Linked DNA regions of Homo sapiens. The protein of the gene in region 1 interacts with the protein of each later gene in a pairwise test. Each region holds a gene or a part of one and is shown in the gene's direction. Other genes may lie near its edges. The genes, in order: CEP126, PRKRA and MRPS6.

What was found.
Region 2: the proteins of CEP126 (region 1) and PRKRA interact in a two-hybrid assay, tested with the Homo sapiens proteins (one large-scale study listed by BioGRID and IntAct).
Region 3: the proteins of CEP126 (region 1) and MRPS6 interact in a two-hybrid assay, tested with the Homo sapiens proteins (one large-scale study listed by BioGRID and IntAct).

The regions. Positions count from the first base shown.
Region 1 is NC_000011.10:101,959,878-101,963,536, forward strand, and holds part of CEP126 (centrosomal protein of 126 kDa), read left to right. Parts: intron 1-1,863; coding exon 1,864-3,659. UniProt on the Homo sapiens protein: Participates in cytokinesis. Necessary for microtubules and mitotic spindle organization. Involved in primary cilium formation.
Region 2 is NC_000002.12:178,430,790-178,434,210, reverse strand, and holds the end of PRKRA (interferon-inducible double-stranded RNA-dependent protein kinase activator A), read left to right. Parts: intron 1-119; exon of another isoform or gene 120-829; intron 830-1,956; coding exon 1,957-2,114; 3' UTR 2,115-2,797; downstream 2,798-3,421. UniProt on the Homo sapiens protein: Activates EIF2AK2/PKR in the absence of double-stranded RNA (dsRNA), leading to phosphorylation of EIF2S1/EFI2-alpha and inhibition of translation and induction of apoptosis.
Region 3 is NC_000021.9:34,076,526-34,080,184, forward strand, and holds part of MRPS6 (small ribosomal subunit protein bS6m), read left to right. Parts: intron 1-3,659.

The DNA.
Region 1 (3,659 bases):
AACAGTTTGTTAGTGACCTGTGAGACCATATAAAGCCATCAACACATTTAATTAAAAATAAAATTTAAATAAAATTTCACAAAGTAGGAATGGAAATGTTTAAAGAAACCATCGCTGGAAATGTTTCAAATTTGATGAAAATTATAAATCCACAGACTCAAGAAGCCCAACAAACTCCAAGAAGGATAAGTGTATGCACACACACATACCACAGAAAGGCACCTAAAAATCAGATTAAAGCCAGAGGGAAAAAAGATATGTTACATGCAGGGCAATAAAGATAAGACGGACCGCTAAATGTAACTTATAAGCAAAACTTGAAATTGATCATAATGTTTCATTATTTAGTGGTGGGAAAAAATCTGAAGAAAAAAAAAGTATTGTTTATGAAATCAGAAGTTGCCAAACTTCTTCTGAGGTGATTTGGGAGATGAAGCAATTACAGACCTATGCAAATGGAAATCTTAGAGCCATGGATGTCATACTTATATCTAGAAGGATCTTCTAACGCAAATTTCTGTGTCTCACTAGATGTAACCTCAAAGGATGCCTTCCAGGCCTGATTTCATCATCATTATCAGTTAAAACAACTTATTTCCAAGAACAGGCATTGAAGTAGCTATGCTTTGTTTTGTTCCCTGTTTGGGTTGAGTGATTATCACTTTAAGAAGTATGCCAAAGGATGTGATAAATAGGGACTAAATGCTAAAAATATAAAACTCTCATGAATAATTTTTAAAACTTATTCCACAATACTAAATCAATAAGAACTAACTATATAAATTAAAATATTTTTATTCTGTAATTTATTTACTTTATTTCTTAGTTTACTTACTGGGATAGAAAAAGAAAGTACTTTTGTCTAATACCATAGTATGTAAATTTTTAAAATTTACATATTTTAGATAAATCTAAAATGTATGATAAATCTTAAGGGATATCAATTTTCTTTCCATTCAGCATTTTGACTAGATATACAATTTAATGTCTTCTTAAAATTTATTTCTATATATGTGATGTAGATTAATGCATGCTAGGTATGTGTGAGAAAACAGAAATATTTTTAAACATTTACCATACATTGAAGTAATTTTGAAATATTATTAAAGACTGACAAATTTCATGTAAATTTCAGTGAAATAGTGATGTAAATGTCTATGGAATTTATGGAAATTACTACTATGCTAAACCTCCAAAAGGAGTCATTAAAGTCAATAGTTTTTGAGCCTAAACCCATATGAAAATTACCTGGGGAATTTAAATAATACCAGTATATGGACCCCATCCAAGTATTAAATCAGCAGGACCCAGGTATAGATATTTTACACAGTTCTTTATGTGATTTTAACATGTAGCCAGAGTTAACAGCCTTACTACAGTCCACAAAATTAAGTTTTATAAAAAGATGTAGCCCCTACTAACAGGAAACTCACATTAGGATCACAGAGCTTTTAGGAGCCTCATTCAAGTCCAGTGAATGTTTTAGGAAAAAAATACAATTTATAAATAATTATTTTTCAGAATCTCACTTTCTATTACTAAGCCTTCAAGAAACTTCATACTCTAAATGGAATAGCAATAACAAAAATTTTTTTTAAGTTCTAACTGTGGCTAGAATAAGCAGGTATTACTTTAGGAGTTGAAATCAAAGCAAGCATACTATACTATAAGTCTTTGTTACCTCCCAATTTTTTACCTTGAGGATTGCTGCAGGGATAAGAATTATTTATATACCTATGATGTTTATAGTCATACTACTCTATATGCAAGGAGAATTGGGCTCAGTAACAATGGTATGTTGAATCGTTAATCTTGGCATTTAAAAGTTTATAAGCTATAAAACAATGTTCTTTTTTTTTCCAGAAATTTTGTGATGAAGTTAATCAGATAACCAATTCTGAAACCCTCTCAAGTATAGACAGTCTTGAGGCTACAGAGCATGAAGAAATATATTTAACACTTAATAAGGAGCATTCCACATCCATCCAGCGGAATACCATTTCCCTCAAACCAGCAAATATGCAATCAACTAATCTCAGCTGCTTTGATGAAGATAAACTGGCATTCTCTAAAACTCAACATATAAATAATTGGCTTACAAATTTAGATGCTTCAAATACTCAGAATGTCACAGCTTTCTCAGATATTTTAAGTAAATCTAATGTTCTGCCTTCATGGGAATATTTTAATAGTAAAGAACAAAATCCATCTCCTTTGAATGGAACAGTGGAAAGAGCCACAAATACTGCTAATAATTCAGTACCCTTTGTATCTAGCCCACCCATGTTTGTACTAGATAAAAAATGTGAAAAGACCTCTGAAACTAGCACTATGAGGACAACTGACTCCACTTCTGGAGCATTCAAAAGAGAGAGACCATTAGTTACTGAGAGCCCAACATTTAAATTTAGCAAATCCCAAAGCACTTCAGATTCTCTAACCCAGGAAGTGGCTACATTTCCAGACCAAGAGAAATATTCTGAATTAAATCAAGAAAATGGAACTACTTCAATTCCTACTTCATGTGTACCAGTGGCAACGCCTTTAGTTTTGCCATCTAATATACAGTCAGCTAGACCTTCAGCAAAGAACAGTATACACATAAAAGAAATTGATGCAGTGCAGTGTTCTGATAAGTTAGATGAATTGAAAGATGGTAAAGAAGAAGAGATAAAATATTTTAATTGCAATAAGGAAGAGTTGCCTTTATTTTCAGACAGTTTTCAAGATGCCTATATACCTCACAATCCTGATTCAAAAGATGAAAAACAAAAATTAGCTGAAACATCATCCTTGTCTAATGTAACTTCTAATTATGACTTTGTTGGCCAGCATAAGAAAATGAAATACAACATCCATGAGAGAAATGGTGTGAGATTTCTTAAAAGTATTTTAAAGAAAGAATCTAAATATGAACATGGTTATCTTAAGGCATTAATTATAAATCAGAGCTTTAAGTTTGGAAATCAAAAAGCAGCAGCTATCAGAGATAGTATTGAATTAACAAAGGAAAAAGGTGCAGAAATTCCAAAGACCATTAAAAAACTGAGGTGGTTTGATGAAACTAGCAATATAGAAAACAATGCTGAAAACAGTCATTCACTGAAGAATAAAACAGGAACAACTCAACAGCATTCTCAACAATTCCACATTCAAAGTGGTGCTGGAAGCAACATAATTAGTGTTTCTACTTGTGCTGTAAATTCTGCTGATACAAAGAAGTCCAGGGAGGATTCTATCTCTGAAAATGTTACGACTTTAGGAGGATCTGGAGCAGACCATATGCCTTTGAACTGTTTTATACCTTCAGGTTATAACTTTGCTAAACATGCCTGGCCAGCCTCAAAAAAAGAAGAAAGTAAAATCCCTGTACATGATGATTCTAAAACTAAGCAAGGTAAGCCACAAAGAGGTAGAGCAAAAATAATTAGAAAACCAGGATCTGCAAAAGTCCAATCAGGCTTTATATGTACAAACAGAAAAGGCGCTGTCATTCAACCACAGTCTGCAAGCAAAGTCAACATATTTACACAAGCTCAGGGAAAATTAATTATACCTTGTCCTCCTCCTCAATCTACATCAAATATTAGAAGTGGTAAAAATATACAAGTGTCTCAGTGTCAACCAGTAACTCCTGAAAATCCTCAAAACATTATTAC
Region 2 (3,421 bases), on another chromosome or scaffold:
TGAACCCGGGAGGCAGAGGTTGCAGTGAACCGAGATCGCGCCACTGCACTCCAGCCTGAGTGACAGAGTGAGACTCTGTCTCAAAAAAAAAAAAAGAAAAGGTGGCTGATGAGAGACCATTCATCCAATAAATATTTATTACTGTCTACAGTTCATTGAGGGTTTAGAATACAGAGATGAACGACCCATGTCATGAATAGGACTATGGAGGATACAGAATCTGGGGGAAAAAAGGAAACCCAAGATAAATTTTTAGATTATGAATTAATGATGCCTCTGAAACATTTCTTCCCAGTTTTGAGAACTAAATAGTTCTTGTAGATATGGAAAGCCATCTAAAAACCACAGTCTGTTAATTTGGCTAGTTTATATGCAGCTACCTTCAAAAGAACCTAGATATTCTCCAAAGGAGATATACAAATGGGCTGGGCAAAGTGGCTCACACCTGTAATCCCACCCCTTTGGGAGACTGAGGCATGAGCATCGCTGGAACCCAGGAGTTTGAGACCACCTGGGCAACATAGTGAGAGCCTGTCTCAAAATTTTAAAATTAAAAAAGAAAAATGACCAAATGACCAAAAAATACATGAAAAGATGCTCGATATCATTAGTCAATAGAGAATGCAATCAAAACCACGATAATAAGGTACCACTTCAAATCCACTAGGATGGCTATCATTAATGAAATGGAAAATAGCAAGTGTTGGTGATGATGTAGATAAACTGGAACCTTACACGTTGCTGGTGGGAATATAAAACAGTTCAGCCTCCATGGAATAAGCTTCTCAGTTCCTCAAATGAATTGCCATATGACCCAGCAACTCCACTCCTAGGAGTATAAATAAAAAACTGGTATTTAAACAAATGCCTATACACACAGGTATCTGTATATTCATAGCAGCACCATTCACAAAAGCCAAAAGGTAGAAACAGCCCAAAACATCCATCAGTGAATAAGTGGATAAACAAATTGTGGACTGTCCTTCCAATGAAATATTATTCAGCTGTAAAAAGAAACGAAGTTCTGATACATTCTACAACATGGATGAGCCTCAAGCAGAAGCTGGAGGGTCAGGAGAAAAGAACCTAGATACTAGAACTAGAAAGCCTCTTTACTCATTAAATAATCCCATTGTATCTGGATATTTTCCACTAAATAGAGTATCAAAAATAACATTTTTATTATGCCTACTTCAAATAAATCATACCGCACACGTTTCTATTTCTTCCTCTTTGCCCTCATTTCAGCCATCTTTAGTAAGAGTGGCTCATCAGTTGATGGGAAGAACGTTTGTTTCCTGGGTCAGGTATTGTTTTTAAAATACCATGACCCATTTACAGTATAAATAAAGAACTAGACTCTGCACAGACTTAAAACCTAGGAACATGAATGGACAACAGCATAAATACATACAATTATTATGTATCAATTAAACATTTTTTTTTAATAGAAGACACAAGGGAGGTTTTGCCTTGACCGAAGTTATTCCTGGTTCAAATGCCTCCTGAAAATGACTTCCTAGTGGAAAATACAATCTCTCCAGTCCTCTAGCAAATGGTTCTTTCCCTTTTGAGAAAGTTACTGTGTGGTTCAGTAATTTCCAAATAGTGTTCAACTAACTATATTAGAATTGCCTTGGGAGCTGTTATTTTTTTAAGTGTAGGAATCAGCCACCCCCAACTGTATATTTCTGATTGAGTGAGCTAGAGTGCAGCCTAGATATCTGTATGTCTTTAACACTGTCAGATCATTATGAAGTGTAATGTGTTTGAAAACTGCTACAGCTGAGCAGTTGTGGTTTTTTGTTTGTACAAGCAAAACAAAGATTGCGAGTGGTGTAGTATACCATGGAGGCTTAAAAAGAAAGACAATAATAAGAATTGTATTGTTTTTACAAAGGGATCCACTTTATACATATTGGACATTAATCGTCATCCTTGAATGTGTCATTACAGATGAACTGAGCGCCAATGGACAATATCAATGTCTTGCTGAACTGTCCACCAGCCCCATCACAGTCTGTCATGGCTCCGGTATCTCCTGTGGCAATGCACAAAGTGATGCAGCTCACAATGCTTTGCAGTATTTAAAGATAATAGCAGAAAGAAAGTAAATCTGGAGCAACTTAAAAAATCTTTCAGTAGCACATAAAAAGTTCCCCTCTGGCCCCTTCCCAAGTAAAACTTTTACCGTAGTGTTTATGTCTTGTTTCTAAATCTCTTCATAGATTCCATCAACACTCCAGATTTAATTATCTCCTCATAGTTGTTATTAAGCTCTTTTTAATGGCTTCAACTTTGTATCAGTATACTGTATTTATAAACTTTGTACCACAAGAGAGAGTGTAGCACCCATTTTACAGTGCCATGCACATCAGAGAAAGAAACTGCATGTTTGTTGTTGATGATGAAATAAAAATGCTAGCGACAGTCTTTCTTACTGGTGCTTAAGCTCTTCTTTGCACAAAGCTTTATAAAGGGAATTCAAAGGAAGCCCTTTAGAATTAGAGTCTTGAGGGACAGCACTAACAGGCCTTTATTAAGTATGATTGATTGTTAAATTTCAGGGAACATGATTGGTCTGCTGTGTATTTGAATTCATGTAACAAAGAACTGTTACGATGGGATTCTGCTCATTTTATTAAAAAGCTACTGACTTGACTGTCATCCTGTTCTTGTTAGCCATTGTGAATAAGATTTTAATGTTGATAATTCTGTTATTTACATATCTCTAATTTACTTTGAAATTCAAAGGTGAAAATAAAAAATGATGGCCTAAGTAAAATTTACAAACATACATGTAATGGGTTACTTCCTTACTTTCTCTAAGCGTATGCAACCTTGTATTTTTCTTTGACATAACCATACACAGGTGAATTACTAGTTTAAAAAGCATTTGACCATGCATGTTGGCTCATGCCTATAATCCCAACTCTTTCGGAGGCCAAGGTGGGAGGATCCCTTGAGGCCAAAAGTTTGAGACCAGCCTGGGCAACATAGTGAGTCCCCATCTCTACCAAAAAGAAAATCAGGTGTGGTGGCACACTTTGAGTCCCAGCTACTCAGGAGGCTGAGGTGGGAGGATTGCTTGGGCCCAGAAGATCAAAGCTGCAGTGAGCTAGGATCACAGCACTGCACTCCAGCCTGGGTGACAGAGTGAGACCCTGTCTCAAAAAAAAAAAAAAAAAAAAAAAAAAAAAGCGTTAGTAGAATTACCCAAAAAACCTTCCCAGCTTATTCAGTTCAGTTGCAAGAATGTTCCAAAGTGATGAGTGATTAAAAGGTTAGGAAATAAGTCTAATGAACAGATTTTAACCTTACCTTTTGTGTTTCCATATATAATCTTGTAACATCTCAAGTCTTCCATCTGTCAGCGCCGGCTCGTGCTAGCTTTCTACATTAGGTGGAAGTCTCAGCTCTG
Region 3 (3,659 bases), on another chromosome or scaffold:
GAGTATCTACTTTTGTACTTCCAAGTTTGGGCATTTAGGAATGTAGTTAACTAGTGTTTCTAAGAAGAAATTTATTTTCAAGTACCATATAGCTTGATTTTTAAAAAAGTGTGTATATAAAAAAAGTTATTTCTATTTTCTGTTTTAGCGTGAAAAGTAGGTAAAAGTGTGGTTAAATTCTGAAATATGACGGTAAAGTAATGGATGTTGTGAAACTAGGCCTTTAAAGGTGACAAGCAATTTGAAAAACCAGTTGTTTAGACCAGTCTTAGTTCATATTTATAGAAGAGTCTCTGGAATAAAAAGATTTTAAAAGTCCTGTTACACCCATATCAGATAGCATCAAGAGAGTTTTATTCACTTCTGGAAAACACAGTATTCAAAGGCTGTAATGTGAAAGGACATAGCCGCAAAGGAGAGACCAAGGCTGCAGTCCCAGGTAGCCTCATTTCAGTGTGAGGAAGACCTCTGACAATGGAAAAAGAAATGGATTGCCTGTGAGATGGTGAGGTCTATATCCACCTCCACCCTGCCCCCCCTGCAATGAGAACTTTGAGGTAGATGAGGAGAAGGGGTCATGTGTTTGGTGAGTGAGCTCTCTTGTGAGTGGGAAAATGGTTGAAGCCCTTTGGTTTCACTTGATAATTAGATTTTAAAGGTTGGTATTTCAGTTAGGTAAAAGACTGAAGTGCCAATACATGAATGGTAAAGCCGCATACTGTATAATGTAGAGGAGCTTAGGAAAAAAATGAAACTTTGTAGACACTTTTTATGCCTTGGGTATACAGGAAGAAGAAATCTGAGGAAAGAAATCTGTGCAATACATAAGTATTTTGTGGTTACTTTAGGAACGCTAATTACGTCTCGTGCCCTTTTCCCAGAAGGTGTTCACAGTTGGCATAGATTATGAAAGCCCTGGGATAATACTTTTCCTGAAATCTTCTCATTGGCGTTCAGGAATTTTTACATGAAGAATTAAAGGTTAATGGCTTAATAACTAATTCACTTGCTAAATGATTCCATTGCATGTACAATAAGATAGCATTTATATATATATATCTTCATATGTTTTTCTAATAGGAATAAAGAAGATAGCTATTTTGGAAATCTTAAGTTCTTATTAAAACAAACAGTAATTTTTATGTTTAATACTCAACGCAGATTATATTTTACATTTAGATAACTCATTGAAATAGTACTTTGGTAGGGTAAGGAGTTTTGTGTAATCTGAGTTTGAGTTCTGACTTGGTTTAATTTGAATATAGAAAAGTATAATCAGTTCCTAAAATGTAGAAAACAGTTGGTTTTCTGGTAGAGTGATGAAGAGTTTTTCTCTAAATGCAAGCCTTTTTTGATTAGAACACCTGGCAAAAGTTTTGTATTTGTTCTAGAGTTCTATTCAAGTTAGGATGTTCTGAAAGTAATGCCTATGAAGTGCCTGTATTTTAGATACCCTTTGGAGATGGAGGGTGCTAATAAACTGAAGTATGAGTCAGGTCAACCCTAGGTCCTTGTAGTTTGCTTGGCAAGCATTTGATAACTAGGAAATAGTGAAGTTTCTGCTGTGTGTTGGTGGGAGACATCAGTTCAAACGGAAACATCTAGCTGTCAAGTGGTCTTTTTTTTCTTCCCATGGGCCCTCCCTAAACAGCTTAGCCTTGTATCTTTAATAATCTCTCTTTGTGTTTTATCTGCTTGAAACCAGGCAACTTAAAATAGTTACCTAGTAATGGAAGACTTGACCCTGTGAACAATGTTATACTTTCATTTGGTATTAAATTTTCTTGGGTTACAGCTTATTGCCGCAGCAAGCTATTGAAGAAGGAAGGAGTCCTGTTCCTGCCCCTGAGCTACAGCTAAGGTACAAGGAATGGCTTGGGGGTAAGGAGTCCTTCCTCACCAGATATGGTTTGTATGTATGAAGACTGCTTGTCAGAAGTTGACATTTTGCACTAATTTTTTTTCTTAATTCATGACTCACACATTCAATACTGATGTTTCTAGATTTTAAAAATCTAGGTTATATCTAGTATTATATGCAGACTATTGAATCTTCTAACCTTTTAGATTATAAAATCAGTTTCAAAAAATTAAGAGTTCAAAAGCAATGACGGGAAAATTCTGAAGTAATATTTTTCATCTAGTGCCTTTGCTGTGTTTGTACTACTACATGTTTAACTCATCTAAAAGAAACCTGGAATACCATAATGGGGTTTAACATGAAGGTGGAAGGAAGGGTAGAGAACAAATGATAAAATACTGTGTGATTACTCATGTTATAAAAAGTTGTTGCAATTTGATTATCAGACTTTTCCTATTTAATGTTCTTAGCTTTGTGTTAGAATTTCCAATATACTCATGAGTTTATCTGTTTTTAGTGGAAGGCAATATTTTTAAGACGTGTTATCAACACATGTAGTTACCTCTTAGGGGAATCCTTACTTAAGGAATTAGTCAAATGAATGTCTGGTAAGTTATCAATTTGTCTAAAGGAAGAACTACCCTTGGGTTTGGAAAGTGACAGTTAATTCAGCCTCTTATCCTTTTTGTTGCTTTGAAATTAGAGCAAGAGTTGGCAGCCTGTGGCTTCCGGGCCAGATCTGACCTGTCACCTATATTTTTGTGGCTTGTGAAGTAGGAAAAGATTTTACAGTTGAATAGGTGGGGAAAAAAACAGCAATACTTTATGGCACTTGAATTTCATAAAACTTTCACATTTCAGAGTCCATAAGTAAAGTTACATTGGAACATGACCCTGTTCTTTTGTTTATATTTATTATCTAGTCCTTTACAGAAGAAATGTGCCAGCCCCTGATTTAGAGTATATAGACACAATTTTCTAGGTGCATCATTTTTCTTGGCTTCTTATGCTGCTGTTTTCTGATGTTACTCCCTTGATTTCTCCCTTCTTCTTCTTTCTGTTTTTTTGAGACAGAGTCTTGCTGTGTTGCCTAGGCTGGAGTGCAGTGGCACGATCTCGGCTCACTGCAACCTCTGCCTCCTGGGTTCAAGCGATTCTCATGTCTCAGCCTCCCAAGTAGCTGGGATTACAGGCATGCGCCACCAGACCCAGCTAATTTTTTTTTTTTTTTTTTTTTTTTTTTTTTTAGTAGAGATGGGGTTTCACCATGTTGGCCAGGATGGTCTCAATCTGACCTCGTGATCTGCCCGCTTTGGTCTCCCAAAGTGCTGGGATTACAGGCCCTCTTCTCTTTATGTACAATTCCATTAACCTTCATGTGGATGATTTGCCACCTTTTTTAACAAGCTGACAACTCTGGCATTTTCTGTTCTCTTCTGTGCTGGTTATGGCCTCCTGGGTATCCCCTTGGCACTGCAAACTCAGTGTGGTTAAGAACTTAATGTGTTGCCTATCCCCAAAGTTGCCTCTGTTATTGCTTATTTCTGTTTATCGCTTCTCTGTCTTCTGTCATCTGGGGCTGAACAAATGCAGTTCTTTCTTTTCCTGCAGTCTCAATGCCATATAGTCTTCTCTGCCCTAGTTGAACTGCTCATGTTGTTTGTTTCTTCCTTGGACTCTTGCAGTTTCTTAGCTGGTCTCCTGACATACTACTGAGGGGAGGATAGCTAATACCTGTAAATACGCTTGTAGTGCAAATATATGTCCTTGAGATACTTTAAAACACCTAAATAGGTGC